6 separate regions of the Homo sapiens genome follow, and all the other regions are reported to be linked to region 4. Evidence: microRNA targets listed by miRTarBase, many of them from high-throughput screens and not tested one by one. Region 4 holds a microRNA gene; each other region holds the end of a gene's coding sequence.
The links. Region 4 holds the annotated microRNA hsa-miR-4728-5p (UGGGAGGGGAGAGGCAGCAAGCA, at 2,607-2,629, shown strand). A microRNA usually pairs through its seed, bases 2 to 8, with sites in the 3' UTR of a target mRNA and lowers its output. Matches are read on the target gene's strand: a 7mer-m8 pairs with bases 2 to 8, a 7mer-A1 pairs with bases 2 to 7 and ends in A, and an 8mer does both.

Region 1: miRTarBase lists KRT80 as a target of hsa-miR-4728-5p. Seed matches in the 3' UTR shown: 7mer-A1 at 1,617-1,623, 8mer at 1,629-1,636, 7mer-m8 at 1,988-1,994, 7mer-A1 at 2,322-2,328 and 7mer-m8 at 2,364-2,370.
Region 2: miRTarBase lists SPEF1 as a target of hsa-miR-4728-5p. Seed matches in the 3' UTR shown: 7mer-m8 at 1,433-1,439.
Region 3: the mRNA of SIT1 is a reported target of hsa-miR-4728-5p. The part of its 3' UTR that is shown has no 7-base or 8-base seed match.
Region 5: the mRNA of AMER1 is a reported target of hsa-miR-4728-5p. Seed matches in the 3' UTR shown: 7mer-A1 at 1,494-1,500, 7mer-m8 at 1,711-1,717, 7mer-m8 at 3,923-3,929, 7mer-m8 at 3,972-3,978 and 7mer-m8 at 4,493-4,499.
Region 6: the mRNA of NPC1L1 is a reported target of hsa-miR-4728-5p. Seed matches in the 3' UTR shown: 7mer-A1 at 1,100-1,106.

Annotation. Positions count from the first base shown.
Region 1 is chr12:52,167,290-52,172,359 of GRCh38, reverse strand. KRT80 (keratin 80) reads left to right here. Exons shown (of 9, transcript NM_182507.3): 7 at 1-162; 8 at 647-702; 9 at 838-3,364. The coding sequence ends at 962. Among named protein-coding and RNA genes, the nearest start is that of KRT80, 22 kb to the left of the region's middle.
Region 2 is chr20:3,773,965-3,779,023 of GRCh38, reverse strand. It overlaps SPEF1 (sperm flagellar 1), which reads left to right. Exons shown (of 7, transcript NM_015417.5): 4 at 34-73; 5 at 218-278; 6 at 480-603; 7 at 705-1,520. The coding sequence ends at 812. Among named protein-coding and RNA genes, the nearest start is that of SPEF1, 5.0 kb to the left of the region's middle. RefSeq lists an enhancer at 1-558 and a silencer at 694-943.
Region 3 is chr9:35,645,640-35,650,709 of GRCh38, forward strand. It overlaps SIT1 (signaling threshold regulating transmembrane adaptor 1), which reads right to left. Exons shown (of 5, transcript NM_014450.3): 2 at 4,863-4,998; 3 at 4,718-4,776; 4 at 4,545-4,606; 5 at 3,656-4,442. The coding sequence ends at 4,209. LOC101926948 (a long non-coding RNA gene) reads left to right here and starts at 631. Exons shown (of 2, transcript NR_135130.1): 1 at 631-794; 2 at 1,051-1,837. It also overlaps a transcript of CD72 not described here. RefSeq lists enhancers at 803-1,182, 4,043-4,092 and a silencer at 5,003-5,070.
Region 4 is chr17:39,723,890-39,728,959 of GRCh38, forward strand. MIR4728 (microRNA 4728) reads left to right here and starts at 2,606; the gene lies at 2,606-2,672. It overlaps ERBB2 (erb-b2 receptor tyrosine kinase 2), which reads left to right. Exons shown (of 27, transcript NM_004448.4): 19 at 23-121; 20 at 837-1,022; 21 at 1,160-1,315; 22 at 1,438-1,513; 23 at 1,818-1,964; 24 at 2,673-2,770; 25 at 2,926-3,114; 26 at 3,406-3,658; 27 at 3,800-4,769. The coding sequence ends at 4,155. It overlaps MIEN1 (migration and invasion enhancer 1), which reads right to left. Exons shown (of 4, transcript NM_032339.5): 4 at 4,621-5,070. RefSeq lists an enhancer at 2,414-3,386.
Region 5 is chrX:64,185,109-64,190,171 of GRCh38, reverse strand. It overlaps AMER1 (APC membrane recruitment protein 1), which reads left to right. Exons shown (of 2, transcript NM_152424.4): 2 at 1-5,055. The coding sequence ends at 293. Among named protein-coding and RNA genes, the nearest start is that of AMER1, 18 kb to the left of the region's middle.
Region 6 is chr7:44,508,718-44,513,787 of GRCh38, reverse strand. NPC1L1 (NPC1 like intracellular cholesterol transporter 1) reads left to right here. Exons shown (of 19, transcript NM_001101648.2): 19 at 139-1,253. The coding sequence ends at 341. It also overlaps the pseudogene RPL36AP27. Among named protein-coding and RNA genes, the nearest start is that of NUDCD3, 21 kb to the right of the region's middle.

The DNA of each region.
Region 1 (5,070 bases), not on the chromosome of region 4:
GGATGCCAAGACCAAGCTGGCCCAGCTGGAGGCCGCCCTGCAGCAGGCCAAGCAGGACATGGCGCGGCAGCTGCGCAAGTACCAGGAGCTGATGAACGTCAAGCTGGCCCTGGACATCGAGATCGCCACCTACAGGAAGCTGGTGGAGGGCGAGGAGGGCAGGTGAGAGCCAGGGCTGGTGAGGAAGGGCTGCAGGGGAAGGAGGGCTGGAGGCCCAGGCCTACACAAAGTCAGTTCTCCTTTCCAATATGATACAGTGAGCCTACCAGGCCTGGGTTTAAGTCTTGGCTTAGTCACTTACAAACTGGGACCTTGGCCCAGTTCATTTCATCCTGTTTCCCCATCTGGAAAGTGGGCTGATCATAAACATGGTTCACCTGTGGCAGGGATGATTCATGTGATTATGCCTGCAAATGCCTGTCAAAACTCAGTGCTCAATGCTATTAGCCATTTATGCCATGGAGATGGGACAGAGGCCCAGGAAGGACAAGCTGGCTAGCCAGGGCCACACAACAGGGCAACCCCAGGGCTGGGAGTGACCACCAAGAACTACCCTCCACTTGCCAGCCCCCAGGGGAGTTTAAGCCACAGGCTCTCTTCGCATCCCATCATATCCCTCTCCCACCCCCCCGTCCCCCACCCCCAGGATGGACTCGCCCTCAGCCACTGTGGTCAGCGCTGTGCAGTCCAGGTGCAAAACCGGTGAGTCCTCTTGCCCCGAGAACCCATGGTGGGGTGAGGGTGAGGGTGTAGGGGATCATGATCCTAAAGGCATCATTTTAAGTGGCTCCCAAACCTCCAGCCCCTTCCCTCCCCTACCCCTTATGTTCCCTGTAGCTGCCTCCAGATCAGGCCTCTCCAAGGCCCCCTCCCGAAAGAAGAAGGGCAGCAAAGGCCCCGTGATCAAAATCACCGAAATGTCAGAGAAGTACTTCTCGCAGGAGTCGGAGGTCTCAGAGTAAGGCGGCTGGACCCCAGGAACCCCAGGGCACTCCACTGCAGCAGGAGGGACTTAAGCTAGACTCAAGAAAGCAGCTTGGAGCCTCTAGGTTGAGAAGAGAGGCAAAACCTGATATTGAACTGAGAGAGGGGTTCAAAACTGACTGTGTTTTGTGGGCTGCCAGGGTGGGAGAGGAGCATCACCAGCTCCTCAGAGCCACTCCGCTCCATATCAGTATCTCACAGTCCCATCCTTCCAACCTTCTGGCCAGAGGTTTTCCTGATGGGTGAGTCGGAATTAGGGGTCAGTTTTGTCTCCACCTCCTCGCTCCTCTGAGGCTCCTCCTCCAGCATCAGGCTCTGCCAAGGCCCCTCTGACTCTTGCCCAATCCTTGACCTTGACTCCTATCTCAAGCCTTGCCTTGTCTCTGCCTCGGAACTGGGACTGGGACTGGCTCATCCACCTATGTGCGGGAGCCGAGGAGGACGGCGTGGGCCCTGTCCTGTATCTGGAATTCCTGGGAAGGCTGGCTGCTGAAGACCCTCTTGGCTTTCCCGTGCTCTTTGGGCTCCCCAGAGACCTGACAGTATTAGGGAGTGAAGGGAGGAGGGGCCCTGGCTATTTGGGACCTAAGCCTAGGCCCCAGAGATCAGCCCGAACACCCGCATCCCTTCCTCCTCCCATGGGTCCCTCCCAGTAGGCAGTAGTCAGAACTGGATGGGCTGCCCCCAGCCAGCTCCCAGCAGCTTCTCCGGAAGCTGCTCTTGCCATAATCAACTCCCTGGGAGTGGAAGCCAGATGGCAGCTTGAGATTGGGCAGGAGCATTCGATCTTCCTTTCACCTCCCTGCCATGCTGGGGTCCTACCCAGCCTGGATCTGAGCTCTGTGCCCCCAGCCGGGTTGTTCCCAGCCTGAGCACCGGGCTTTGGTGCACCAGGCCTTGGAGACCCCTGGTCCCACCCCTGCCGTGAAGCCCCAGGCCCACTTCCCAAGAATCTCACTTCTCAGGGCCTCTGTTCTCCTCTCCACTGGGCCAAATAGCCTGGCCCTCCCCTCCTTGGCATTCATGGGGGAGCCCAGGAACCCCCCACACCTATGGGGTTAGAGCTCCTCCTTTCTTCTCACTCCTTCCCCTTCCTCCCTCCATGCCCACTCCCCCTGCCTCCAGCAGGCCAGGAAGAAGGCACAGTCCAGGCAAGTCTGGGAGCTTCCAAGCCCTTGAGGTCCAGCTGTGGGGCCCAAATGACAGCCTTACAAGGGTTCTACCAGAGAGGAAAATTCCACATCCCACCAGAAGACAGGGGTGTTGGCAGGCATACTCCTATCTCCTCCTCTTGGCTCTCAATGCTGAGGCTTGCAGAGGCATCCCAGCGGCACCAGCCTCCCACTGCACAGCTTCCTTCCCTCCTTCACTCTCCTCTCCCCTCCCTGCCCCTTGCCTCACCTCCTCTTCTAGACTGCATTAGATTCATTCATCTCATTTGCCAGGACATGTTGGCCAGAGGTCTGGGCCCATCCCAGGCCTCAAGGCCCTCCAGGCCTGTGGGGAGCACTGGAGGGTTACTGACTCTCTGGCCATGGGAACTCAGAGATTCTCATCCCCAAAGTCCCAAAAGAGGGTGCTGATTGGTGCTTTTCCTCAGGCTCTTCATTGGTTTCCAAGGGAGCAAATCCTCAGTGGGGATACAAGACATATAAAGTATATATTATTTTTTCATAACTTATGTGGCTTTTAACTTATTGCTTCCCTTCCTGTTTCTGCATGATCAGTCTGTATGTACTATCTGGAAAGATAACACATACTCCAGCCACCTCACCTGATTGGCTATCTTGGGGCCATGTCCCCTTCTTGCTGCCACAGGATGAATAAAGTGTTGAGATTTGTCTATGGAGAAAGCTGTGTGTCTGTTTTTATCTCCCCTCTCAGGACCAGTCAGCCACTGGTCAATCAGGCTGATCATGGAACATTAGGAATTCTCCAATTAAGGGAGAAAAAGTCCAGGGACTTAGTTATATCTTCAGACCAGTGCAGCTGGTACACACAAAGTTCTCCTGTCTCACCATCTGATATGGTTTGGATGCTCGTCCCCTCCAAATCTCATGTTGAAATGTAATTCCCAGTGTTGGAAGTGGAGCCTGGTGGGAAGTATTTGGATCATGAGAGAGGATCCTTCATGAATGGCTCAGCACCATCTCCTTGGTGATGAGTGAGTTCTCACTCAATTCACATAGATATGGTTGTTTAAAAGAGTCTGAGACCTCTCCCCTCTTTCTCGCCATGTGATATGCCTGCTCCCCCTTCACCTTCCGCCTTTACTGTAAGCTTCCTGAGGCCCTCACCAGAAGCTGAGCAAATGTTGGTGCCATGCCAGTACAGCCTGCAGAATTGTGAGCCAAAATAAATGTCTTTTCTTTATAAATTACCAAGTCTCAGGGATTTCTTTCTTTTGTGTATGTGTGTGTCTGTGTGTGTGTGTCTGTGTGTGTATGTGTGAGACAGAATCCTGCTCTGTCATCCAGGCTGGAGTGCAGTGGCTGGATCTCGGCTCACTGCAACCTCTGCCTCCCGGGTTCAGGCAATTTTCCTGCCTCAGCCTCCCGAGTAGCTGGGATTACAGGCACCCACCACCATCCCCGGCTAATCTTTTGTATTTTTAGTAGAGATGGGGTTTCACCATGTTGGTCAGGCTGGTCTCAAACTCCTGACCTCAAGTAATCTGCCCGCCTCGGCCTCCCAAAGTACTGGGATTACAGGTGTGAGCCACAGCGCCCAGCCAGGGGATTTCTTTATAGTGTGTTTAAGAACACACTATAAGCACAGCCAGGCCCCTGGGCTGACTAATACACTGTGCTGCACTGAGACTGCACCAACGTTGACCTATGTTCCCAGCGCCTCCTGACATATCCAGGCACCACACAGGCTGCTTTAGCCAGCACACATGCTGGGGATTCCCCAGTGGTGGCAGGGTTTCTTCTTAAGCACTTCTGCCCTACTGGGAATTGACACAGCCCAGAATGTATTCTGATGCGTACGGGCCCAATCCTGCCAAATCAAATCCCAAGTCAATGCATAAGGATTGAGGACCTTCTCCAAGCCCAGCCTTGTGCTAAGACTCCTCCAAGACAGGGGTCCACCCCTCAATCGCAAGTAGTTCACAGTCAGGCTGAGAGATGAGATATCCACCCAAGGTAGCCACCCTGGACTTCGTCACCACGTGCAGAAGTGGGTGCTATAAAGGTCAGGGAAGAGAAGGGCTTGTGGAGGGAATCAGAACAGGCTGCTTAGAAGAAGGGGGACTTTAAGTGAACACAAAGGATCTCAGTTAGGAGACAGACCAAAGCAGGAACAGGTGTCTGTCTCAAAGGAAAGGAATAGCGGGAAGGGACGTGGCAGCATTTGTGTCCTGGCCCACCCACTCACCAGCAAGGAGACTTTAGGCAAATAGAGCATCACTTTCCTCATCTGTAAAATGGGGCACACCTCTTCCCTACTTAACTCACGGGGTGCTTGGGCATTTGATGAGGTGGCTATGTTTATTCATTTCAGGAAAGCCACATCTCTTGCTTCTGTCACTCTGAACTATAATAGCTCAACAATTGTAAAGGATTATTAGTGATGGTGTGATTATTACAGCAGACATTAAGGATTAAAGGTGACCAACTAATCAGGAGACTCAAATGCAAGCAAATAGACCTCGTGCTGGCTAAGAGCACAGCACAGCCAGGCCCCTGGGCTAAAGTTCAGAGGCTTGAGTTTATCCATTCTCCTGAAGACCCTGAAGGGCAGGCTCCACTCTCAAAACTCTGAAGAGACTGATAAGCCACATACCCGTCCAAGAGAGGCCTAGAGCTGAGACCAGCTCTCTCATTTTATCTCTGTTTTCTGTTTTATTAATTTCTGAGTCAGAGTTTGAATTTCTGAATATGAATATGAATTTCATAGTCAAGAATTTCATGAGGCCAGGTGATGGCTATACCTGAAATCCCAGCACTTTGGGAGGCCGAGGTAGAAAGATTGCTTAAGCCCAGGAGTTCGAGACCACCTAGTCAACATAACAAGACCCTGTCTCTATGAAAAAAAAAAAAATTAGCCAGGTATGGTGGCAAGCACCTGTAGTCCTAGCTACCT
Region 2 (5,059 bases), not on the chromosome of region 4:
CGGGCTTACAGCGGACCCCCGGGGTTCTTTCAGGAGCTGGCTCCCCAGGATGGCAGTGGCTACATGGATGTGGGTAAGGTGGCCTTTTCCATTTCTCCCTCCCGGTTGGAGCTTTCCTTCTGTCCTTCTTCCTGTCACTTGTGAGAGTGGAAGTAGGGAGGGGGAAGCAGGAGAATGAGACTCCAGCACAGTCATTCCTCCACTTGCCTTGTCTCAGGTGTATCCCAGAAGGCCCGAGGTGAAGGTGTCCCGGACCCCCAGGGAGGGGGTCAGCTCAGGTAAAGAAGCTGGGAGTTCCAGACTTCACCAGGCTGGTGATCTCTGCACACAGCTGGGGTTGGGGGGCACGGTACGCTGAGCCTGAGACGGGAGGCAGGAAAGGGGCTAGAGGGGGAGAAGGGAAGGCCTGGTCGAGGGCCCTGGAAGGGTGAGTGTAGGGCCCGAGGTCCAAGCCTCCGCTAAGCTGCTTCCCACCCCAGCTGGGACCGGCCGCCGGCGCCTCGGCCTCCAGCGTATAACCGGGCGTTGCAGGGCGACCCCAGCTTCGTCCTCCAGATCGCTGAAAAGGAGCAGGAGCTGTTGGCCTCTCAAGAGACCGTGCAGGTGAGGGGTCTAGGAAGGCTGCGGGTGGGGGCTCGCGGCCAGCAGAGGCCGGGCAGGAGGGAGCAGACCGCCAGGCTTGACGCCTGCGCGGTGCGGCTTAGGTCCTGCAGATGAAGGTAAGGCGCCTGGAGCACCTGCTCCAGCTCAAGAATGTGCGGATCGAAGACCTCTCCCGGCGGCTCCAGCAGGCGGAGCGTAAGCAGCGGTGAGCGGCGGCCCGGGCCGCGCGGGGACGCCCGGGTACCCGCCAGAGCCCCGACGCCGCGCCGGACCCACCCACCGATGGATAGACCATTGGGAGGGCGGAGCCCGCTGCTCTCACGAGCCTGCTGGGGCCCGAGTGCCCTCCTTCCTTGGGATGGGTGAGCGTGGGAGGAGATGGGACAGGAACTCTAGGAGCGCAGGCCCGGGACTGAGCCGCCTCCTACCACTCCGGAGATCCGGGTCAGGAGAATGGACCGCTTTCCAGAGCCCAGAAGCCACGTGCAGAGACCTAGCCTGTCCCCCAAAGCAGTGTCCAACACCTTGGGCCCGGCCTTGCATCTCCCGGCGCTGGGCCTTGGGGGGCGGTCCCTTGGCTCTGTCCACACCCCCAGAATCAGGTCCCCGCCCAGCTCCGAGGACGGCGGCGTCTCCATCCAGGCTAGTTCCCCATGCCCTCAGCCATGGGGGAATCTGTCCCGGGCCGCTGAGGGGCTCCCCTGCCCCTCCTGGGAGCTTACCTGGGACCCACCTCGGCGACGGAGACCGCAGCAGCTGGAGAGGAAGGGGTGAGGCGTGGGATCGCCAGGAGTAGGGAGGACATCGACGATGTGCCCGTAGCAGTCGCCCCTCCCTCCTCGCGCACGGGGTACTGAGGCGGAAGGTTTGAAGGTTACGGCTCAGGGCTGCCCCATTAAAGTCAGTGTTGTGTTCTATTTCCTGTGCCTGCCTTCTCTTTTTGCATCTGAGGGGAGCCAGTTTCTTCTTCACTTGTCCTCCATCTCCCCACCCCCGCCTTGAGTGAAAGAGCTTTCTGGACCCAGAGTGGATCTCATCTTGTGGGTGGCTGGGTCCTGTGCGGCCACAGCTTGGTAGGTTGATGATATCACCAGGGGTCAGGTTTTGCACAGGATGACAGCCTAACTTCTAACCCTGGCCTTAGATTGACCCCCAAACCCACCCTCACAGTGTTCTCCAACCTTGTCCAAACCCAACCCCAAACCAGACTTCAAATTGTTCCCAAATGTGGCCACACACTCACCCTCAACCCTACGTAAGGACTGACCCCTAACTCGGCCCTCTGTACGACTCCAACCCTGCCCACAGACAATCCCAACTTCCATGGATTGAGGCCAGGCTTTACTCCCAACCCTGGCCAACACACTACAGCCATGGCATGACCCTAACTTTAATGGTTTTCTGACTACCAGTAATGTGGAACATTTGTAAATCCTGAGATCCAGCTGGGCATGGTGGCTCAGGCCTGTAATCCCACCACTTTGGGAGGCCAAGGCAGGTGGGTCACTTGAGGCCAGGAGTTCAAGACCAGCCTGGCCAATGGTGAAAACCCATCTCTATTAAAAATACGAACAATTAGCCAGGCGTGGTGGCGGGCACCTGTAGTCCCAGCTACTTGGGAAGCTGAGGCAGGAGAATTGCTTGAAGCTGGGGGGCAGAGGTTGCAGTGAGCCAAGATCGCACCACTGCACTCCAGCCTAGGCAACAGAAGGACACTCTGTCTCAAAACAAAACAAACATCCTGAGATCTAACAATTCCATTCCTAGGCATATACCCAGCACATACCCAAGGGAAACCTAGGCTCTTGTGTTCTGTGTTCTGGGAGACATGTTACAACAACGTTCATAGCAACACTCTTTTTGTTTGGTTTTGTTTTTTTTAAAATGGAGTCTTGCTCTGTCGTCCAGGCTGGAGTGCAATTGCACGATCTCGGCTCACTGCAACCTCCACCTCCTGAGTTCAAGCGATTCTCCTGCCTGAGCCTCTCAAGTATGTGAGATTACAGGTGCATGCCACCACATCTGGCTAATTTTTTATATTTTTGGTAGAGACAGGTTTCACCATGTTGGCTAGGCTGGCCTCGAACTCCTGACCTCAAGTGATCCACCTGCCTTGGCCTCCAAAAGTGCTGGGATTACAGGCGTGAGCCACCATGCCTGGCCCACAGAAACACTCTTTGTAATAGCAAAAGAAATGAAAAGAACCTGTATACATTATCTCTTACTGTGTAGCAAATTATCACCAATGTAGCAGCTTAGAACAACAAATACTTATTATTATATCTCACATTTTCTGTGGGTCAAGAGTCCAGGCCAGGCTTGGCTGGGTCCTCCACTTCAATGTTTCCTACAAGGCTGCAAGCAAAGGGCCAATAGAACTGCAGTCTCATCTGAAGGCACAACTGAGGAAGGATCCAGGCTTCCAGGCTTACTTGGTTGCTGACTGAATTTACTTCCTAGTGGGCTGTCAAACTGAAAGCTTCAGTGTTTTACTCATTGTTGGCCAATAGCCACTCTCATTTCCTTGACACATAGCCATCTCCAGTATGGTAGCTTACTTCATCAAAGACAGGAAAGGAGAGAGTTGATAGAGTCTATTACCAACAAGGGAGTTACAGGCCTGGTGCTGTGGCAGAGGTGCACTTCTCAGAGACAGACTTAGCTATATCTGGATACCAGGAGCAGAAGCCTCAAAGAGGAAGAACCATCAGGACCTGGCCCAGCCTTTGCCATGTAGGAGGCCAATAGGTGAGGTCGTGATACCAGCCATCAAACCTGTCTTCTGGGCCCACAGTGCTACTGCTAAGGCAGAACTGTTAGCCTGCCCTGTCTCCTGGTCCTCGGGCCACTCCATCAGCCATTCCTACTATCTTTACATATAGCAGCCTACAGGTGAGGTTACATGGATAAAAGTTTCAGGGAATAGAACTCCGGGGGCCTATTGCAGACTATGGAGAGATCGTGGTGCTATAGCAAGGGTCAGTGTGTGTGAAGGGCTAACGGTTAGTTTGGGGCAAGTGGAGGGTCAGGTGGAGCCAGTGTTAAACTAAGACCAGGTGGAGTGCATGGATGGGGCTCAGAACAAGGTCAGGAGTAGTTGGCAATTTTTATTTCATTTATTATTGAATATTTTAAATATTACTGAATTGGACTAAATATAATCCTTGGTTCATGACACTCTCTCCCCATTTGTCCATAATCAACTCACTTATGAACACCTATAAATCCACCACCTGCCCCAAGAATGGAATTATTACAAATAACTTTCACCGGCCATGTGCTTCTTGCATCTCTCCCCCTTGCTTCCACTCAGAGATAACCACCATCCTAGATTTCATCCTTTCATTGCTTTTTCCTCCTTGTAGTAGACAGCTCCTAACGTGGCTCCCAGTAATCCCTGCCTCCTGGACGTCACCCCCATGTGTACCCTTTCCTTGAATGTAGGCTGGACTTAGTGACTTGCTTCTGATAAGTAGAATACAGCAAATGTGATAGGATGTCAACTTTTGTGATTACATTAGATAAGATTATAACTCCCTTATTTTTAATTTAATTTTTAAAAAATTTTTCTTTCTTTCTTTTTTTTTGTTTTGAGACAGAGTATTGCTCTGTCACCCAGGCTGGAGTGCAGTGGTATGATCTCGGCTCACTGCACTCTCCACTTCCCTGGTTCAAGTGATTCCTCTGTCTCAGCCTCCCAAGTAGCTGGGATTACAGGCACACGCCACCACACCCGGCTACTTTTTGTATTTTTAGTAGAGACGGGGTTCCACCATATTGGTCAGGCTGGTCTCAAACTCCTGACCTCAGGTGATCCACCAGCCTCGGCCTCCTAAAGTGCTGGGATTACAGCCGTGAGCCACCGCACCCAGCCCTAACTCCCTTCTTTTTTAGAGACAGGGTTTTACTCTGTCGCCCAGGCTGGAGTGCAGTGGCACAATCTTGGCTCACTGCAACCCCAGCCTCCCAAGTTCAAGCAATCTTTACACCTCAGCCTCTAGAATAGGTGGGAGGACAGGTGCATACCACCATATCCAGCTAATTTTTTTTTTTTATGAGATGTCTCACTCTGTCATCCAGGCTGGAGTGCAGCGGCATGATCTCGGCTCACTGCAACCTCTGCCTCCCAGGTTCAAGCTATTCTCCTGCCTCAGCCTCCTGAGTTGCTGGAATTACAGGCACCTGCCACTACGCCCAACTAATTTTTGTATCTTCAGTAGAGATGGTGTTTCACCATGTTGGCCTAGTTGGTCTCGAACTGCTAACCTCAGGTGATCCACCCACCTCGGCCTCCCAAAGTGCTGGGATTACAGGTGTGAGCCACTGCTCCTGGGCTTTTTTTTTTTTTTTTTTTTTTTTTTTTTTTGTAGAGACAGGATTTCGCTTTGTTACCCAGGCTGGTCTCCAACTCCTAGGTTCAAGTGAGCCTCTTGCCTCAGCCTCCCAAAATGCTGGG
Region 3 (5,070 bases), not on the chromosome of region 4:
CAAAATATCTCATGTACTCTATAAATACATACACCTACTATGTACCCATAAAAATTAAGAATTAAAAAACACTTGGTTTCTCTCCACAACCCAGCTCTGTTTCCCTCCTTGTAAGAAAACCAAGCTGGAAGTTTAAACCCATCTTTGAGAGACTACAGAGCAGGGCCAAAGATGGAGGTGCCCTGGCCGGATGGCTTCCAAAGACCCTCCCCACCTATAAGTAATTTCTTAAGAACCTGGCCAGGCTCGGTGGCTCAAGCCTGTAATCCCAGCACTTTGGGAGGTCTAGGTGGGCGGATCACCTGAAGTCAGGAGTTCACCAGCCTGCCCAACATGGCGAAACCCTCTCTCTACTAAAAATACAAAAATAATTAGCCGGGAGTGTTGGCGGGCGTCTGTATTCCCAGCTACTCAGGAGGCTGAGGCAGGAGAATCTCTTGAACCTGGGAGGCGGAGGTTGCAGTGAGCCGAGATCGTGCCATTGCACTCCAGCCTGGGCGACAGGAGCAAGACTTCGCCTCAAAAAAAAAGAAAAAAAAAAAGAACTTCCTGCTGTTGAACCTTTGACTGTCCCGGAGACCCTCCCTCTTCCGTTTTCAATGTGTCCCTATCCTCCTAGCTAGGCTTTAAGAAAGAGGAGGGACAGCTGGGGCCCTAGGAGCTCCCCCTGAGGGTCTGTCCCTGGGAACGGGGCGCTAGGACGGGCACTCCTTCTGGCTGGAATGCTACGCCGGTGAGGGAAAGGAGTCCACTAGGGAAGTACCTGGAGGTGGAGACGGGGAGAGAAATCACAGGTATTTGTGAGTCGATCAGCTAGAGGGTGTGGCAAGGGGGGGCCCCTCGGAAGATGTCTTAAGTTCCAGGTTCAGGAATCAATAGGGAAACTGCCCAGTCCTTGTGTTCAGGGCTGAGGGCCTCGGTGACGGAGACGAGGTAAGAAAACGGAACGGCTGTACAGGAGAAGACAGAGAATCCGGGCTGGGGGACGGAAAACAAAGTTCAAATCATACCCCGCTACAGTCACATATGAAAAATAAAATTGTTTTACAGAAACTCAGTTTACAAACGACTGCTTGGGAGCAGTCATGTCACCCAGTCCAGAGGGAGCCGGTCAGCTGCGTTCCGCGAACTTGGGAGGCGACTGCTGGGGTAGCGGCGGGGCCCTCACTGCGCGTCGTCAGGGACCAGACCCTGGGGTGGCCCCGAAGCGTCGAGACTACAACTCCCGGGATGCCGCGGGCCAGGCTGCATCCCGCCTGCGCAGAAGTGGTGGCAACTCCGCCCCTCGCCAGGCGGCGGCGCTGCGGACTCAGTCCTAAGCGGGCGAAGGCGGCGAGCGCCGTGGGTCTGGGCGGGCCAGGAGAACCGGGTGCTTCGAGGAGATCTGCGGGCTGGGTTGGGGGCGTTTGACCCCTTGGCTTGTCCCAGTGGGTAGGCGGGACTCCAACCCCCGCCTCCTCCAGGGTAAAGCTCTCACGTCCACCTGGCGCGACGCTGAGCCATCTTCAGAAGCACCGCAGCCCTCAGAACCCCACATCCCGCTGCCGGTGGTTCCCCGCATCCGGTGTCCGCCCCCGAAGCCTCCCTCCCTCCCTCCTCCGCATCCCCAGCTACCTGCCCTTAACCGCGACCTGGGCCTCTCCTGGGGAGGCCCAGGGTGGGGTCCTCAGAGGTCCAGGGACCCAGGGGCATTTGTGGGGTCTGTAGGGGGGTGGGCTTAAGGGAAGGGTGGTCCCTTTCAAATTGGGACCACCAGGCAGGAATCAGGCGCACGGGTTCCTCCTCTGTGGCTTCCTGTGGCACTCCAAGTGGGAAGAAGAGAAGCTTGGAAGTGAAAGCCTCAGCTTCTCCTTTCTTCAGCCCCTCAAGCCTCAGAAAGATCTGTCAAGCGCGGCCCGCCTCTACAGAGGCCCTGGGGAGATGGTCTAGACCTTGAAATATCCTAGAAGAGGTTTGACAGGTTGGAGCTTTTGCTAGACAGATGGATCACAGATGGGCTTAAGGGGTGGAGGGTGTGTGTGTGTTTGTGAGAGAGAGAGAGAGAGAGAGAGAGAGAGAGAGAGAGATTGCCAGGTGAGGAAGGTGATGAGCTGAAACCAACTTGGAGCTATGCTGTATTATGATGATGAGGATTTGGGTTGGGGGGTGTTACAGGCTCTAACCAGAAATCTGGAAGATGTGATAGGTGGGGCCTTTAAAAAAAAAAAAAACCCTAAACATCTCTTTGTAATCCATCCCTCCTCTGCATCCCTACCGCTACTGCCGCCATCCCCTCTCACTCAAATCTTGCAATAGCCTTTGAAAGGCGCCGCCTGACTCCAGACTGCTGACCACTAGATCAGCACAGCAGCCAGTGGAGTTAGAGCCTTTAACTCACTGTGTTCATCCCTCGCTTAAAACTTTCAGTGACTCCCTTTCACCTCCCCTGCAGGATAAAGCCCAAGCTCCTTGGCATGACTTATGGGCGCAGTGTGATCTGGCTCTGTCTGCCCCTCCAGCCTCATCTTACCATTGCCCCCATCTCACTCTACCCTCCGCTGTGCCTAATGCACTTCTGCCAGGTCCTCTGAATAAGCCTCTCCTTTGCCTGTGGTTCCCTTTGCCTTGGAGCATTTTCTGTCCTTCGCTTCTCCTGGCAGATTCCTACTATGTGTCATGTCTCTACCTAGAAGTCACTTCACCTATGAGCTCCCATAGAGGATCCTGTATTTCTCTTATTTTAATAATGCCTAGCATTATTGAGCATTTATTGTCTAAGTGCTTTACAAATGGTAACTCATTCAGCCTCACAACCACCTTTTTTTGAAGTAAACACCGTTAATATCCTCTCAATCTTACAGATTCAGAAACCGAGGCACAGTTGCCCAAGAACACACAGCTGGTAAGTGGTAGACATGGAATTTGAATGCAGGCAGTCCGGCTCCTGAGCCCAGAGTCCTAATCTCTGTGCCAACTGGCTGATGTAGCATGCTATATGGGGTAGGAGGCTGGGGTTAAGAATCAGCAGGTGATGGGTGGACAGGCAGGACAAATTAGATGGGGATTAAAATGAAAGTGGTGACAAGCAAAACTGTTGCCAAGACTGCAGGTGACAACTGAGAGAGTGAAGGCCAGGCACGGTGGCTCATGCCTGTAATCCCAGCACTTTGGGAGGCCAGAGTGGGAGAGAGTGAGTGGAGATGGACCGCTGCCATAGTGATGGGGTAAGGAGAAGGCCTCTAGGGGTATACGATGACTAAGTGCAGATAAGGCTACTGATGTCAAAACAGGGGTATAGGTGGGACTCATAGCGGACAGACGGAGGTCAGATTGGAGGACTTGATGAAGGAACCAGGCTGGCAGGTTGTGGAGGTGATGGCAGTTATAGAGGTCAAGGGGAGAGTAGCTCAGGACTGTGAGCTTGCAGCCCCAGGGGGAATGCAGTGGCTCTGAGTGCAGATCCCAGGGGTGTTCTAGCAGCAGCAACAGCAGCTGAGGAGCTGGGCTCTGGCCCTCCACCCCGGTGCCCACCTCTGCACTGTTGATGCCGCAGCCCCTCTTGGCCCCTCATCCCCAGCTAGGCACCCCCAGAAAGAGCTCCGTGCAGACAGCAAAGCTCACACCCCCATCTGCAGGGCCCTTTGCAAGTCTTCAGCCTTCTAGGTAAAAATCTAAACACTTTTTGGAAAGTTTTATTTGAAAACTTGGGGACAGGACAGAGACAGCAGGATGGAGACTGTATTCTCCTGCTAGGGTTCTTAGGTCAAAAGCCAGGCTCGGGTCCCTCCCGTCTCTAAGTTCCAGGTCCACTCCAGTCTGTGGACTCCTGAGGAATATACCCACCCACCCACTGTCAGGCCCTTACCCCTCCCCCACCGCCCACTTCCTGTGCCTGAGGAGACACTGAGGCGTGGGGGTAGACTATGAGGGAGCGGGGGTGGGGAGGATCTGGTTAAACTCCAGAAGAAGGAAGTGAGAACCTGGGAGTTTGGGGGCTAAGAGGAACAGATAGAAAAAAGAAATAAGGAGGGGGCTACTGTCTTTGCCTCCTCCATCACGAAAGCTTTGCCCTGAGATGTCTCCCTTGAAGCTCAGATAGGAAGTCCGGGGTAGATCACATCCTGTGACTTGGCAATGGCGCCCGTCTTTGGGTGCTGGTTGGGAAACAGTCATGCCCCTGCTACGGGGGGCTGGGGCAGTGCACGCCCCGCTGTGCCAGGCCCTCCATCTCAGCTGGCTGCAGGCTGGCTGTTGGCATAGGCCTGATCCGGGAAGGAGGCCCGGGCCCTGCGGGTCTGGGCACATACTGAGGCATAGAGCTCCGGCTCGGGGCCCGAGGCCTGGGACTTTGGCTCAGAGTCCAGCACCACCTCCGAGTACTTGACGGGGGTTCCAGGACCGGGGATCCGACCCTGAGGAGGCCGCAGCTGCAGGCTGGTATAGCACATCACCTCCTCTGCAGCCTGGAGATGCAAGGCTGTTAGAAGTTCACTGGACCCTCGGAAAAGCCCGAAAAGCCCCCCACTTCCTTCCCTCCCCCTTTTCTCCAGCCACAGTTGACTCACCCTGGCAGGGCCTCCAAGAGTTGGATCCTGCTGGTCTGGCTCTGGGTCTTGAGACAGCCGTCCTGGGACGGGGAACAGGAATCTGGTCAGCAACTTGTCCTTCCTCCTGCACGCCCCCATCCCAGCCACCCAGGACCTGGCCTCTGTGCCCCTCCTCTCTGCCAGCTCCCTACCTGTCTGTAGATAATGCAGGTTCCCATACAGCGGGACCTCTTCCACAGACTCTCCAGAGCTGCAACGCAGAGTTTAGGGGATGAGTGGGGACTTCTCGGTAAGAGAGAACTCTCAGTCAACCCATCCCTGTTGTCCTTCACCCACCGTCCCTGCCCCGGATGGCTCCTGCTCCGGCCCCTGGTCCACTGGGACAAGTGTGCAGCCAGCGAGATGAGAAATAGCAGCGTCACAGCCCCTAAGAGGACCCACAGTCCCCAGGCCTGGGTTATGGAGGGGATTCCTGTGGATGTGAAAGGAAGGGGGGTGTAACAGCCCCGCCCCACCCCCAGGGCCCAGCAGGTGGGACCTGGGG
Region 4 (5,070 bases):
ATATCCTCCTCTTTCTGCCCAGGGCATCTGGATCCCTGATGGGGAGAATGTGAAAATTCCAGTGGCCATCAAAGTGTTGAGGGAAAACACATCCCCCAAAGCCAACAAAGAAATCTTAGACGTAAGCCCCTCCACCCTCTCCTGCTAGGAGGACAGGAAGGACCCCATGGCTGCAGGTCTGGGCTCTGGTCTCTCTTCATTGGGGTTTGGGGAGATATGACTCCCGCAAACCTAGACTATTTTTTTGGAGACGGAGTCTTGCTCTGTCACCCAGGCTGGAGTGCAGTGGCGTTATCTCGGCTCACTGCAACCTCCACCTCCTGGACTCAAGCGATTTTCATGCCTCAGGCTCCTGAGTAGCTGGGATTACAAGCGCCCGCTAATTTTTTTTTTTTTTTTGAGACAGAGTCTCGCTCTGTCACCCAGGCTAGAGTGAAATGGTGCGGTCTCAGCTCAGCCTCCCAGGTTAAAGCGATTCTTCTCCCTCAGTCTCCTGAGTAGCTGGGATTACAGGCGCGAGCCACCACGCCCGGCTAATTTTTGTATTTTTAGTAGAGATGGGATTTCACCATGTTGGCCAGGTTGGTGTCAAACTCCTGACCTCATGATCCGCCCGCCTCGGCCTCCCAAAGTGCTGGGATTACAGGTGTGAGCCACCGTGCCCGGCCTAATCTTTGTATTTTTAGTAGAGACAGGGTTTCACCATGTTGTCCAGGCTGGTACTTTGAGCCTTCACAGGCTGTGGGCCATGGCTGTGGTTTGTGATGGTTGGGAGGCTGTGTGGTGTTTGGGGGTGTGTGGTCTCCCATACCCTCTCAGCGTACCCTTGTCCCCAGGAAGCATACGTGATGGCTGGTGTGGGCTCCCCATATGTCTCCCGCCTTCTGGGCATCTGCCTGACATCCACGGTGCAGCTGGTGACACAGCTTATGCCCTATGGCTGCCTCTTAGACCATGTCCGGGAAAACCGCGGACGCCTGGGCTCCCAGGACCTGCTGAACTGGTGTATGCAGATTGCCAAGGTATGCACCTGGGCTCTTTGCAGGTCTCTCCGGAGCAAACCCCTATGTCCACAAGGGGCTAGGATGGGGACTCTTGCTGGGCATGTGGCCAGGCCCAGGCCCTCCCAGAAGGTCTACATGGGTGCTTCCCATTCCAGGGGATGAGCTACCTGGAGGATGTGCGGCTCGTACACAGGGACTTGGCCGCTCGGAACGTGCTGGTCAAGAGTCCCAACCATGTCAAAATTACAGACTTCGGGCTGGCTCGGCTGCTGGACATTGACGAGACAGAGTACCATGCAGATGGGGGCAAGGTTAGGTGAAGGACCAAGGAGCAGAGGAGGCTGGGTGGAGTGGTGTCTAGCCCATGGGAGAACTCTGAGTGGCCACCTCCCCACAACACACAGTTGGAGGACTTCCTCTTCTGCCCTCCCAGGTGCCCATCAAGTGGATGGCGCTGGAGTCCATTCTCCGCCGGCGGTTCACCCACCAGAGTGATGTGTGGAGTTATGGTGTGTGATGGGGGGTGTTGGGAGGGGTGGGTGAGGAGCCATGGCTGGAGGGAGGATGAGAGCTGGGATGGGGAGAATTACGGGGCCACCTCAGCATGTGAAGGGAGGGAAGGGGCTGCCTGTGCCCCACCTTGCAGGGTCTGTGCACTTCCCAGGATTAGGGAAAGACCGGGTAGGGTCTGTCTCCTGGCATCACATCTCCCCCTGCTACCTGCCATGATGCTAGACTCCTGAGCAGAACCTCTGGCTCAGTACACTAAAGCTCCCTCTGGCCCTCCCACTCCTGACCCTGTCTCTGCCTTAGGTGTGACTGTGTGGGAGCTGATGACTTTTGGGGCCAAACCTTACGATGGGATCCCAGCCCGGGAGATCCCTGACCTGCTGGAAAAGGGGGAGCGGCTGCCCCAGCCCCCCATCTGCACCATTGATGTCTACATGATCATGGTCAAATGTGCGTGGCTGAGCTGTGCTGGCTGCCTGGAGGAGGGTGGGAGGTCCTGGGTGGAGGAGCCCACAAGGGGCATGAAAGGGGACCAGGATGTATGTAGACCCAGGAGCCCTAGTATGTTAGGAGCCTCAAAACCTTCTTGTATCCCTTTTACAGTCAAAGTCCAAAGCCACTCTTGAGGAACACTCTTGTACAAAATTAAGCTGGGCACAGTGGCTCATGCCTGTAATCCCAGTACTTTTGGAGGCTGAGGTGGGAGGATCCCTTGAAGCCAGGAGTTCAAGACCAGCCTGGGCAACATAGTGAGATCCTATCTCTACAAAAAATAAAAAAATTATCTGGGTGTGGTGGTGTGTGCCAGTAGTCCCAGCTACTCAGGAGAGGCTGAGGCAGGAAGATCACTTGAGCCTAGTTTAAGGTTGCAGTAAGCTATGATTGCACCACTGAAATCCAGCCTGGGTGACAGAGCGAAACCTCATCTCAAAAAAATAAAAAAGCAAACAAAAAGAAAAAAAAAATTAAAAGGGAAACTAGAAGAGATGCCAAAGGTTCTGGCTGAAGACCCCAGAGTCTGGTGCTACTTCTCTACCACCTGAGGGCTTTGGGCTGTCCCTTGGGACTGTCTAGACCAGACTGGAGGGGGAGTGGGAGGGGAGAGGCAGCAAGCACACAGGGCCTGGGACTAGCATGCTGACCTCCCTCCTGCCCCAGGTTGGATGATTGACTCTGAATGTCGGCCAAGATTCCGGGAGTTGGTGTCTGAATTCTCCCGCATGGCCAGGGACCCCCAGCGCTTTGTGGTCATCCAGGTACTGGGCCTCTGTGCCCCATCCCTGCCTGTGGCTAAGAGCACCCTCCTGCAGAGGGTGGGAAGGAGAGATGAGTCCAGTATGCCAGGCCCCTCACGGAAGGCTGCATGCTGGGCTGGGGAGGGGCCACCATCCTGCCTCTCCTTCCTCCACAGAATGAGGACTTGGGCCCAGCCAGTCCCTTGGACAGCACCTTCTACCGCTCACTGCTGGAGGACGATGACATGGGGGACCTGGTGGATGCTGAGGAGTATCTGGTACCCCAGCAGGGCTTCTTCTGTCCAGACCCTGCCCCGGGCGCTGGGGGCATGGTCCACCACAGGCACCGCAGCTCATCTACCAGGGTCAGTGCCCTCGGTCACACTGTGTGGCTGTCTGCTTACCTCCCCCAACCCCGGTGGACTAGGGTCCCTTTCTCTGATGTTCCCTCAACTGTCACCTCTCAAGGAAACCCCATTATCCCTACAAAAAATTCTTACTGCCTTCCAACCCCTGTGACCCCATTCTCTCCACGGTGACTGTGTCATACCCCAAAGGTGACCTCTGTTTTTCTCCTGTGACCCTGTCACCTTCCATGGAGTCCCCATCCCAGATCCGTGAGTGACCCCCATCATGACTTTCTTTCTTGTCCCCAGAGTGGCGGTGGGGACCTGACACTAGGGCTGGAGCCCTCTGAAGAGGAGGCCCCCAGGTCTCCACTGGCACCCTCCGAAGGGGCTGGCTCCGATGTATTTGATGGTGACCTGGGAATGGGGGCAGCCAAGGGGCTGCAAAGCCTCCCCACACATGACCCCAGCCCTCTACAGCGGTACAGTGAGGACCCCACAGTACCCCTGCCCTCTGAGACTGATGGCTACGTTGCCCCCCTGACCTGCAGCCCCCAGCCTGGTATGGAGTCCAGTCTAAGCAGAGAGACTGATGGGCAGGGGAGGTGGGACCTTCAGCCCAGGGTCCACTGTGGGGGCAGAGGGAGTGGCAGAGACACCGGGGTTCCTTCCCCTAATGGGTCACCTTCTCTTGACCTTTCAGAATATGTGAACCAGCCAGATGTTCGGCCCCAGCCCCCTTCGCCCCGAGAGGGCCCTCTGCCTGCTGCCCGACCTGCTGGTGCCACTCTGGAAAGGCCCAAGACTCTCTCCCCAGGGAAGAATGGGGTCGTCAAAGACGTTTTTGCCTTTGGGGGTGCCGTGGAGAACCCCGAGTACTTGACACCCCAGGGAGGAGCTGCCCCTCAGCCCCACCCTCCTCCTGCCTTCAGCCCAGCCTTCGACAACCTCTATTACTGGGACCAGGACCCACCAGAGCGGGGGGCTCCACCCAGCACCTTCAAAGGGACACCTACGGCAGAGAACCCAGAGTACCTGGGTCTGGACGTGCCAGTGTGAACCAGAAGGCCAAGTCCGCAGAAGCCCTGATGTGTCCTCAGGGAGCAGGGAAGGCCTGACTTCTGCTGGCATCAAGAGGTGGGAGGGCCCTCCGACCACTTCCAGGGGAACCTGCCATGCCAGGAACCTGTCCTAAGGAACCTTCCTTCCTGCTTGAGTTCCCAGATGGCTGGAAGGGGTCCAGCCTCGTTGGAAGAGGAACAGCACTGGGGAGTCTTTGTGGATTCTGAGGCCCTGCCCAATGAGACTCTAGGGTCCAGTGGATGCCACAGCCCAGCTTGGCCCTTTCCTTCCAGATCCTGGGTACTGAAAGCCTTAGGGAAGCTGGCCTGAGAGGGGAAGCGGCCCTAAGGGAGTGTCTAAGAACAAAAGCGACCCATTCAGAGACTGTCCCTGAAACCTAGTACTGCCCCCCATGAGGAAGGAACAGCAATGGTGTCAGTATCCAGGCTTTGTACAGAGTGCTTTTCTGTTTAGTTTTTACTTTTTTTGTTTTGTTTTTTTAAAGATGAAATAAAGACCCAGGGGGAGAATGGGTGTTGTATGGGGAGGCAAGTGTGGGGGGTCCTTCTCCACACCCACTTTGTCCATTTGCAAATATATTTTGGAAAACAGCTAGGCACCGGCCTATGTCTGGGGGTGGCTCTGTGCCATCCCTTCCTGCTCACCTTACACTCAATTCCTCTTTTCCTGGAGGGAGTGGCTGGGAATCTTCAGAAAGCTTGGATGAGGAGCCAGACATCCAGTTCTCCAGCTTCAGGGTTGGGGGAGATCGGGAAGCTGGATTCAGATCTGAGAGCCCTTTGACGACCAGATCATTCTTATTTAGAACGAACTAATTCCTAAGGCCACTCACCAGAATGGGGTTATTTCCTCCTTGTGAGTGAGGAGAGTGGTGGGTAGGGTGGGGGAAAG
Region 5 (5,063 bases), not on the chromosome of region 4:
AGGCCTCCCAGAGCATGAGGGCCAGGCCTCGAGATGTGCTGCTGCCTGTTGATGAGCCCAGTTGCTCTTCCAGTTCTGGAGGCTTCAGCCCCAGCCCTCTACCACAGGCCAAGCCTGTGGGCATCACCCATGGCATTCCTCAGCTGCCCAGGGTCCGGCCTGAGCACCCCCAGCCTCAGCCCACTCACTATGGGCCTTCCAGCCTTGACCTGTCAAAGGAGAGGGCTGAGCAAGGTGCCTCTCTTGCCACCAGCTACTCCTCCACTGCCATGAATGGAAACCTAGCCAAGTAGTTATTATCAATTCTGGAGTAGGGACACGGGGCCTGAGCATGTGAATGGGGATCAGGGGTTGGGCAGAAGGGTGGGGGGGTGGGGGTTGTTGTTTAACTTGAAAACCCTTTGGGCCAAGGAAAACTCCTGTGAGTTTTCACCTTGGTTTTCCCACTTGCCTCTTCTGCCATCTATGGCCACGTTCAACTCAAGTGCATCTGCCCAGGGAGGCTGCTGCTGCTACTGCACTCCAGTTTTTGCTTTCGAGGTTTCTTCTTGTGACCCACGCTGGGTTTGGGATGCTGTAATTTTGTGCCTATTCCAGTTGCCAAGTTAGTGATTATATATATATATATATATATATATATATATATATATATATATACACACACACACACACACACACACACACACATACATACACACACACACACAAACACACATGCACACACATATATAGCATGCATCCTTGACACAGGCTAAACCTTTAGTGCCCCCTGCCCCTTTCCCCCAATGAATGATGAACCACTGATTAGCAGCCAAGTCTGCATTGCCTCCCGCTTGGGGAAGTGGGGCTTATTTGCTATTAGCAATGTGAAATTATGGTACAGATCCTCCCCACCCCTATTCCTTTTGGCCTGGCATAGCTGCCATCATTATATCAGATGACTATAAGCTATTCATCCCAGCTAGCTGTCCTTAGAGAGGATCAAGTAGCGTGTGTCTCACAGCCTATCGCTGTGGACTTTGGCATCATGACCAGATGGGGGCCTTTTAACTGTCCTGCCATAGCTTGGGTTAAAGACAAAAATGCTAATCCCCTTGATGGAGTGATAAAATTCATCCATTTGCAAACAGAAGACAAAACAAGGTTCTGTTGTGGACACTGCCATAGAGTGTTGAGCTCCGGAATGATAGGATTTTTTTTCCTTCTTTTAAGCTTGTGACTACCTGAGTTGCAGATGCTTTTGAATTTTTGTTCTTTTTTCCTCTAAAGGAAATTTTCATAATCTCATCACAAGGAACACGGTCTTTTAATTGAGATAAGGGAAGAGAAGCAACCTAAATTAGGCTTGACTATAGGGGCTGGGGTTTTTGTGGAGTGTAGGGGAAAGATAGAAAATGAGGGTCCATTTATCACAGCCAGCAAGAAAGGGGATTTCAGACCATGCAGAGCTTAAGGTATCTCAGTTTCTTAAAAGGGAAAACTCCCTTCTCAAGCCTCCCAACACAAAATGTTCCTTAAGCCTTGCCCATCCCATCATTTGGACTCTGTAATAAGGCCCCAGGTTTGCACTCCCAAGACAGGATACCAAAGGCATCTCAGCTGCTGTTCTGGGCCCTTTAAAGAGCTTTTATCTTCCAATTAGCCGAGTCCTTAGCATCATCAAATGACAGGGCTTCTTGGCAGTTGCAGCCCTTTATGGAATGAATGGCACCCTCCCTTCTCCTGCATCCATGCAGTTTTCATGTTAAACTAGGTTGGAAATACTGGTGGGGAAGAGCTTGCTGTCAGGAAGACATTGGAACAGGCTAATCTTGCCAAGCTCAACCTCTCATTAATCACCTGTAGGAGAGGGTTCCTTTTACATGTCTTTATTGGAAATGGCATATGGAACATTTTTTGCTTGGCTGTGTTCACTCAAATTATGATTATTGCACCCTCGCCCTCACATCCCACCATCTCCATGCCTGTTGAGAGAAGAAGTCAACAGGGTTCTTGCCATTCCTGAGATATGGCAATTTAGCTTGGGAACAGATGCTGTTTGCCCCCTAAGTCAAGGTGACTTTGTGGGCAAACTGTTTCTTGGCCAGGGGATGTGTCCATGCTGGTCTTTGTCACCATTTCTCAGATTGGGGTTGGCCCAGTGCCCTTACTCACAAATAGCAGACCTGGCTGGTAGAAGCTGCACCCCTGGAAGCACCACATGAATTTGCATGGCACTAACACCACCACTCAAGGGACCCAGACCAGCTCTTCAGGCTGACTTTGGCTACAGATACATTGTGAAGAAATGTATCTGTTGTGGAGCTGGAGAATGAAAGAGGGTGAGGAAGGCCCTCCTTACCCCAAGCACAGCATTCCAAGAGAGAAGTGCCCAAATTCCAACTTTCTGGCCTCTTACCAAAGCTGCTCTGGGATGGTGGGGCTGAAATTGGCCTGGCTATTTGGCAGGAAGTAAACACTCACCAAATGCCTTTACAACAGGGAAGAACCCACCTCTTGCCTCTTCTTTCAGGGCAGCTTGAGCTCCTGTCTACATGTGGACTGTGCCAGCCACAGCAGGCGGTAGAGCCATCACCAGCCTCCAGACCCTGCTGGAGAAGGGCCACCAGCCTATCTGGGAAGAGAAAAAGGAGGTGGCCAACCTTTGGCTAAGGGCTGAGAGCTGCCCTCAGGATCAGGAAGGCAGCATGAGGCATTGTCTCTGAGGGGCACTGGCATAGCCCTGACACACTTTGTTGGGCTTTGGAAGGTCACACACCACAGAGTAGGGCCTGGGGCTGAGTGAGAGTTCATGGTTTGGACAGCCTTGCTGCCTGCAAGTCCCTTCACTGCCCTAGCCAGCCCAGGAATAGGATCCTTACCACCTGAAGTGGGGCAGCCAGGATATGTGGCTGCAGAAGCAGGTTCCTTTGAATTTCTAGAGCTAAGCAGTTTGTGGCTGAAACCCAATGGCAGCCTAGGGGAGGAAGGAAGACCTGTCTGGGGACCCATGGTGTTGACAGCACAGGGTGACATTGGGAGAGCCAGCCAAGCTTCAGGCCTGTTTCCAAACACAGACTAGTGCTGGCTTGGGTGGCAGCAAATACACCCCAGACCACTAAAACTGTTGATATCATGTCCACACCTCCAAGAGTACTACTAGATGAACAACATGTCTCCATTGCAAGGTCCTGGAATAATGCTTTTGGATGTGATTTTAAGGGAAAATGGGACTTAGTGGAAGTAGCTGCCTTCATCTTATTACCCAATAGGCCTAGTGCCAGACAGCTGTGATCCTGAGAATTCCCAGATGAGACTGGTCCTTGGAGGACCAGTGAATGTGGATAGAGAAGGCCACCTAGTAGGCCTCTCCCAGGGCCAGGATGCCAGTTTCTTGGTGCTTTAGAGTCTCCAAGGAAGCACTGCCTTGGGGCCCAGTTCAAGCCAGCCCTACCTATCTGGCCTCAGCTTGGGTACCAGGCCACAAGACTGCCCGGATAATGGGTTCAGTAAACACCAGTCTCTCTCCCTCCTTAGTCCTATGCCAAGAAGGGAAGTAGCTTCACACACTCAGGAGGCTGGGTGTGTACCCTTCATCCTGCTGCCAGCAGCTTTCCTTACCTGTGCCAGTGCCACCACCCCACCTGCCCTCAGCCCCCAGGCCCAGTTGCTAGAGGGAGGCATGGGGTTTAGCAGGGAGACTTCAAGTTTACCCATGTGTATGTTGCATTCAAGTTGTTTTTAATATATATATATATATATATCAAAAGTCAATTATCTATTTTTATATTGTTTGCATTTTATATTCATGGAAAACAATGTTTATCAATTGTTCTTTTCTGATTTATTTTTAAGCGGTGCTGTTTACAGTTTTAAACAAAACAAAGATGACACAAAAATTGCTGCTGCTTGTGCAGAGGGCTGGCATCTCAACTGCCTAGGGCCCTCCCTCTTTCCCCTCTCCCTACCTTAGCTGTACCACACTGTCCGTTCCCTCCCCCCATGATAGGGACAGCAGAAGATGCCCAGGTACTGAAGACAAACGCCAAGTGACTCAGGCGTGTGGGACCTGGTAGACAGCTTGTCATTTTCTGGCTTTATTTTATGTTTTTCTTTCTTTTGAACCCTTCTTCCCCATGTCTAGACCCTCTGAGAGTACTCATGTGTCTTATTTTTTTTCCTCGTTATGTTTTGTGCTTTAGTTTTGAAATCAGAGTGCCCATGTTGTGCTATTTGTCTTGTTGAGTTTCTCCAAAGGAGCATTTTGGGAACATTCTCCACCCAATGGGGAAGGAAGGGGGTTTCAACCATGTCCCCTTTCCCCAAGAAGCTGTGGGAGACAGATGACAATGATGCTTGCACTATCAGGAATTTACCATCTCGTTGAGGAAACCCTTGCATAGGACTTCCTAGGAGCTCAGTTGATTGTGACATTTTCCCAGAAGAGAGGCTTTGGGGAACTCCTTCACCCCTCTTGCTGCTTTGGGGGAATCTCCTCCCCTACCACCATTCCCCCTCCCCTGCCCTGCTCCAGCTCACACGTGGATGGTACTTTGGGGAACAGTGACTTTCAGGGTGATGGCTTGCTGGCCTGATCCCTGACTTTCCAATCCTATAGTCACTCCAAAGAAGAAAATCCACATGGTATGTATATGTGTGAGGGTTGGGTCTATTGAGAGGTGGGACTTTAATTATTGTTATTATTATTGGTGCTTATTTTTCCTGCTGTATATGGGGGTGGGGGTGGGGGGGAATAAAACAGGAATGTATATTTAGGTCATGTTAAATAAAATGGCTGGAGGAAGGAGGGAAGAAATTAGGAACTGCAGTACATCATCACCCCAGGTGTAAGAGTTATTTCTCTCCCAGTGCAGAAAGGGGAGTGTGGCCCCTGGCTGTACCTGAGCTTCCTCTTCTCCATCCCTGAGACATCACAGAATCACCCGGGTTCTGACCTCTCCACTTCTAGCTCTCACTGACATCTGGATATCTTGATGCACTGCCTGTTTGTAACAACATATACTTCTTTGCTGAATGCTAATAAACTTCTGGGTTCAAGAGGGAACCCCTCAGTCACTAATGTG
Region 6 (5,070 bases), not on the chromosome of region 4:
TAGTGACCCTGGAAGGCACATGGCACAGATCCCCCCTGGGACCCTTCCTGCCCTGGGTTTGTTGTACAGAACCAGGAATAGCTTCTCACCTGTGTCCCCTGCCCACCTCTCTGACTGTGGTTCTCTGTCTCTCCGCAGGGCCTGACGTTAACCCGGCTCTGGCACTGGAGCAGAAGCGGGCTGAGGAGGCGGTGGCAGCAGTCATGGTGGCCTCTTGCCCAAATCACCCCTCCCGAGTCTCCACAGCTGACAACATCTATGTCAACCACAGCTTTGAAGGTTCTATCAAAGGTGCTGGTGCCATCAGCAACTTCTTGCCCAACAATGGGCGGCAGTTCTGATACAGCCAGAGGCCCTGTCTAGGCTCTATGGCCCTGAACCAAAGGGTTATGGGGATCTTCCTTGTGACTGCCCCTTGACACACGCCCTCCTCAAATCCTAGGGGAGGCCATTCCCATGAGACTGCCTGTCACTGGAGGATGGCCTGCTCTTGAGGTATCCAGGCAGCACCACTGATGGCTCCTCTGCTCCCATAGTGGGTCCCCAGTTTCCAAGTCACCTAGGCCTTGGGCAGTGCCTCCTCCTGGGCCTGGGTCTGGAAGTTGGCAGGAACAGACACACTCCATGTTTGTCCCACACTCACTCACTTTCCTAGGAGCCCACTTCTCATCCAACTTTTCCCTTCTCAGTTCCTCTCTCGAAAGTCTTAATTCTGTGTCAGTAAGTCTTTAACACGTAGCAGTGTCCCTGAGAACACAGACAATGACCACTACCCTGGGTGTGATATCACAGGAGGCCAGAGAGAGGCAAAGGCTCAGGCCAAGAGCCAACGCTGTGGGAGGCCGGTCGGCAGCCACTCCCTCCAGGGCGCACCTGCAGGTCTGCCATCCACGGCCTTTTCTGGCAAGAGAAGGGCCCAGGAAGGATGCTCTCATAAGGCCCAGGAAGGATGCTCTCATAAGCACCTTGGTCATGGATTAGCCCCTCCTGGAAAATGGTGTTGGGTTTGGTCTCCAGCTCCAATACTTATTAAGGCTGTTGCTGCCAGTCAAGGCCACCCAGGAGTCTGAAGGCTGGGAGCTCTTGGGGCTGGGCTGGTCCTCCCATCTTCACCTCGGGCCTGGATCCCAGGCCTCAAACCAGCCCAACCCGAGCTTTTGGACAGCTCTCCAGAAGCATGAACTGCAGTGGAGATGAAGATCCTGGCTCTGTGCTGTGCACATAGGTGTTTAATAAACATTTGTTGGCAGAAATGGTGTTTTATGTCACATGTCCTACCCTGGCTTCCTCCTCTCGGTTTAAGATAATTTTTGTGAATGACACAAATAATACATGTGTGGGAGAGTGATTTGTGGAGATACTAGTCTGTGTTTTGTTCTATTTCTCCTCCCTCTTTTCAAGAAAGTAGCCAGGCCATTGTGTGCTCATGCCTTACAAGGGCCTTTGAGGAGTGGGAGTAATTTCTCTTCAAACTGGGAGGGCACAGAGCCTGAGAGTCAGTCAGGAGTAGGATGTGCAGCCCCTCCTTTTCTGGAAGAGACTGTGAAGTAGGCAACACCTGGAGGAGCTACAGGAGAACCACGGTGCATTCAAGGAGGGAAGAACCCACCGTACAAACAACCAGCTCCCAGGAGGGCCCCAGGCCAGGGCAGTGGGTGGAAATGTCAAGGAACATTCCAGATCCCCTCGAGTCTTTCTGCCCCATGCTGGGTCCAGCCCTTGTTTGGCTGAGGGGCTGCTGTTGCTTTGAGGCTCAGAGGGACTGTCAGCATGTAAAGGGAAGACAAGCAAAAAGGGGTGGAAAGGAGCTGGCGTTTCTGGAGCCTACTATCTACTTTTGGGTCCTCATAAGAGCCCCATGTGCCAGCATCATTAGCCCACCTTTGGGAGGGTTGCTGGCTGACCATGATGGACAGGAGGTTTGGTGAAGGGACAGCTACGAGGGAATAGAGGCTGAGGAGAAATCGCACAATTCACCCTGTTAAAAACTCCACAGGTGCAGAATAAACAGATAGATTTGAGGAACAAAATAGCTTTTGACAGCAGACATTTCAAATCAGAGGAAAGGGTAGATCCTTCAGTAAACGGTGTGAGAGTAGTGAGCAAATTATTTGGATCAAAATAAAGTTATATCTATACTTCACACAATACACAAAATAAAAGTACAGACAGATTAAAGCACTAAACACAAAAATGAAACTATACAACTATCGGAAGGAAACACAGAAGAGTATGTTATAATCTTGGAGGGGGAAAAGTTTCCTAAGCACAAAGTCCAGAAGCCATAAAGGTAAACACTAAGGTATGACCATATAATAATGGAAAACATCTGAAAACACACAAAAAATTAAAGAAAGTTGAAAGACACATATGAGCTCAGAAAAATAGTTGCAACATATTTAACAGCAAATAAAATCAAGAAAACACAAAGAGTGCCAATAGTGCTCCTGCAAACATGGTGAACACTCCTAAAACCCACTGGACTTTCTGTAAGAAGTGTGGGAAGCACCAGCCCCACAGAGTGACACAGGACACATTTCCCTGTATGCCTAGGGAAAGCCATGTTATGACAGGAAGCAGAGGGGCTATGGTGGGGAGACTAAGCCAATTTTCCAGAAAAAGGCTAAAACTACAAAGAAGATTGTGCTAAGTTTTGAGTGCATGAAGCCCAACTGCAGATCTAAGAGAATGCTGGCTATTAAGAGATACAAGCATTTTGAACTGGGAGGAGGTAAGAAGAGCAAGGGCCAAGTGATCCAGTTCTAAGTGTCATCTTTTGTTTTATTATGAAGACAATAAAATATTGAGTTTATGTTTAAAAAAAAAAAGAATATACAAAGAGAGTCCAGGTACGGTGGCTCATGCCTGTAATCCCAGCACTTTGGGAGGCTGAGGCAGGAGAATTGCTTGAGGCCAGGAGTTCAAGACCAGCCTAGGCAACATAGCGAGATACTGTCTCTACAAAAAGTTTAAAAGTTAGCCAGGCTAGCTATTTGGAAGGCTGAGGTGGGAGGATTGTTTCAGCTCGAGTTTGAGGCTGCAGTGAGCTATGATGGCACCACTGTACTCCAGCCTGAGTGAAAGAGTGAGCTTCTGTCTCAACAAAAAAAAAAAAAAAAAAGAATATACAAAGAGAGGAAGGAGTGCAGGGGGGAGGTCTGGGTTATGTGGCTAACCTTCCCATTAGAAACAAGACATTCTAGCTAAAATAAATCTTAGCCGTGTGTGTGTGTGTATGTGTCTGTGTGTGTGTATGATGCATACAAGTTTAGGGTGTTTTAACCTTCTTGATAAATTGAGACTTTTATAGTTTGAAATGACTATAAAAATATCCCTTTTTATCTCTAGTATTTATTTTTGTCTGTTTAAGAGATGGGGTTCTCACTTTGTTGCCCAGGCTGGTCTTGAATACTTGGCCTCAAGGGATCCTCCTACCTCAGCCTCCCAAGTACCTGGAATTACAGGTATGAGCCACCATGCCAGTCCTATCTGTAGTATTTGTTCAACTGTATAATGTTATTATACACACACACACACACACACACACACACACACAGACACACACACACATATAAAATAACATACGGTTGAACAAATTTTATACTTAATAGTCAAACATTGAAACCCTTTCCCCTGAGATTGGGAATGAGACAAAGTTGCCCACTTTTACCCAACATTGCACTGGAGGTCTTAGCCATTGTAATAAGGCAAGAAAAAGAAACTAAGTTTATAAGGATTAGAAATAAATAAAATTGACATCATTCACAGATAACATAAATATGTATAAAAAAGATTCAGTCTGGGTGCAGTGGCTCATGCCTGTAACCCCAGCAATTTCTGAGGCCAAGGCAGGAGGATCACTTGAGGCCAGGAGTTCAAGACATAGCAAGACCCCACCTCTACAAAAAAAAATTTTTTTTAAAGATCCAAAAGAATCTATATATAAACTATTGGAATTACTCTAACAAAAGGTGGTCAAGAAAACTATGAAAAATAATAACTTTGTATTTTAATTTGTATAATATTGAGAGAAATTAACTGTCAAAAGAAATGGAGGAATATACCATGAATTGAGGGCTCTATACTACAGAGATGTCAATTCTCTTCAAATTAATTACTAGTTTCACTGTAATTTCAATAATAACCCCAGAAAATTTTTTGTGGAAACTGATAAGCTGATTCAAAAATTCATATAGAACCACAAAAGATGAAAATTCACGAAAGCAATCTTGAAGAAAAACAAAGTCAGAGAACTTACACTACTAGAAATCAAGATAATATAAATATATAGAAATAAAGATAGTGAGATTTTGGCACAAGGAAGAACAAATAGAAAAATGGAAAGAATAGAAAGTCCAGAAACAGATGATACCCACAAGGACACATGATTTATGATGGAGGAGGCATGCAGAGCATTGGGTAAAGGAGGTTTTTCAATGTAGGATGCTGACCTAGTTGGGTATCCACACAGAAAGAAATGAATCATGACCCTCTCCCCCAAGATACACAAAAATCAGTTCCTGATAGATTGTCAATCTAAATGTGAAAGATAAAATGATAGAGTTCTAAAAGGTAACATAAAAGAGTATCCCCAAGACTGAAATAGGAAAAACTTTTCTTAGGAAACAAAAGCCTTACTTATAGAGAAAAAGATTGATAAATTGAACTGTATTGGAATAAAAAAAAACTTCTGTTCTTCAAAAGACATCCTTAGGAAAGATAAAATTCAAACCATAGAGAGGAAAAGATATTTGCACATATCTGAAATACACACATATCTGAGAAAGGGCCTGTGCTTAGAATGCATAAAAAATCTCCTACAACTCAGCAAGAAAAAGACAGACAACCAAAAGAAAAGCTAGGCTGGCTACTCAAATAAGCAAATGGCCAATACAAGTTCCTCAATTTTGTCAGTCACCAGAGCAAGGCTGAGTAAAAGCACAGTGAGAGTTCTTCCTCTTCTCTTCCCTCACAATTTGGCCTACAGGCCATGGGGTAAGGTGGGGCCAGGCAGCACATGTGGGGTGTCAGAATCCAGGTGGTGTGGGGAGCGTTTCCACATTGGATCTG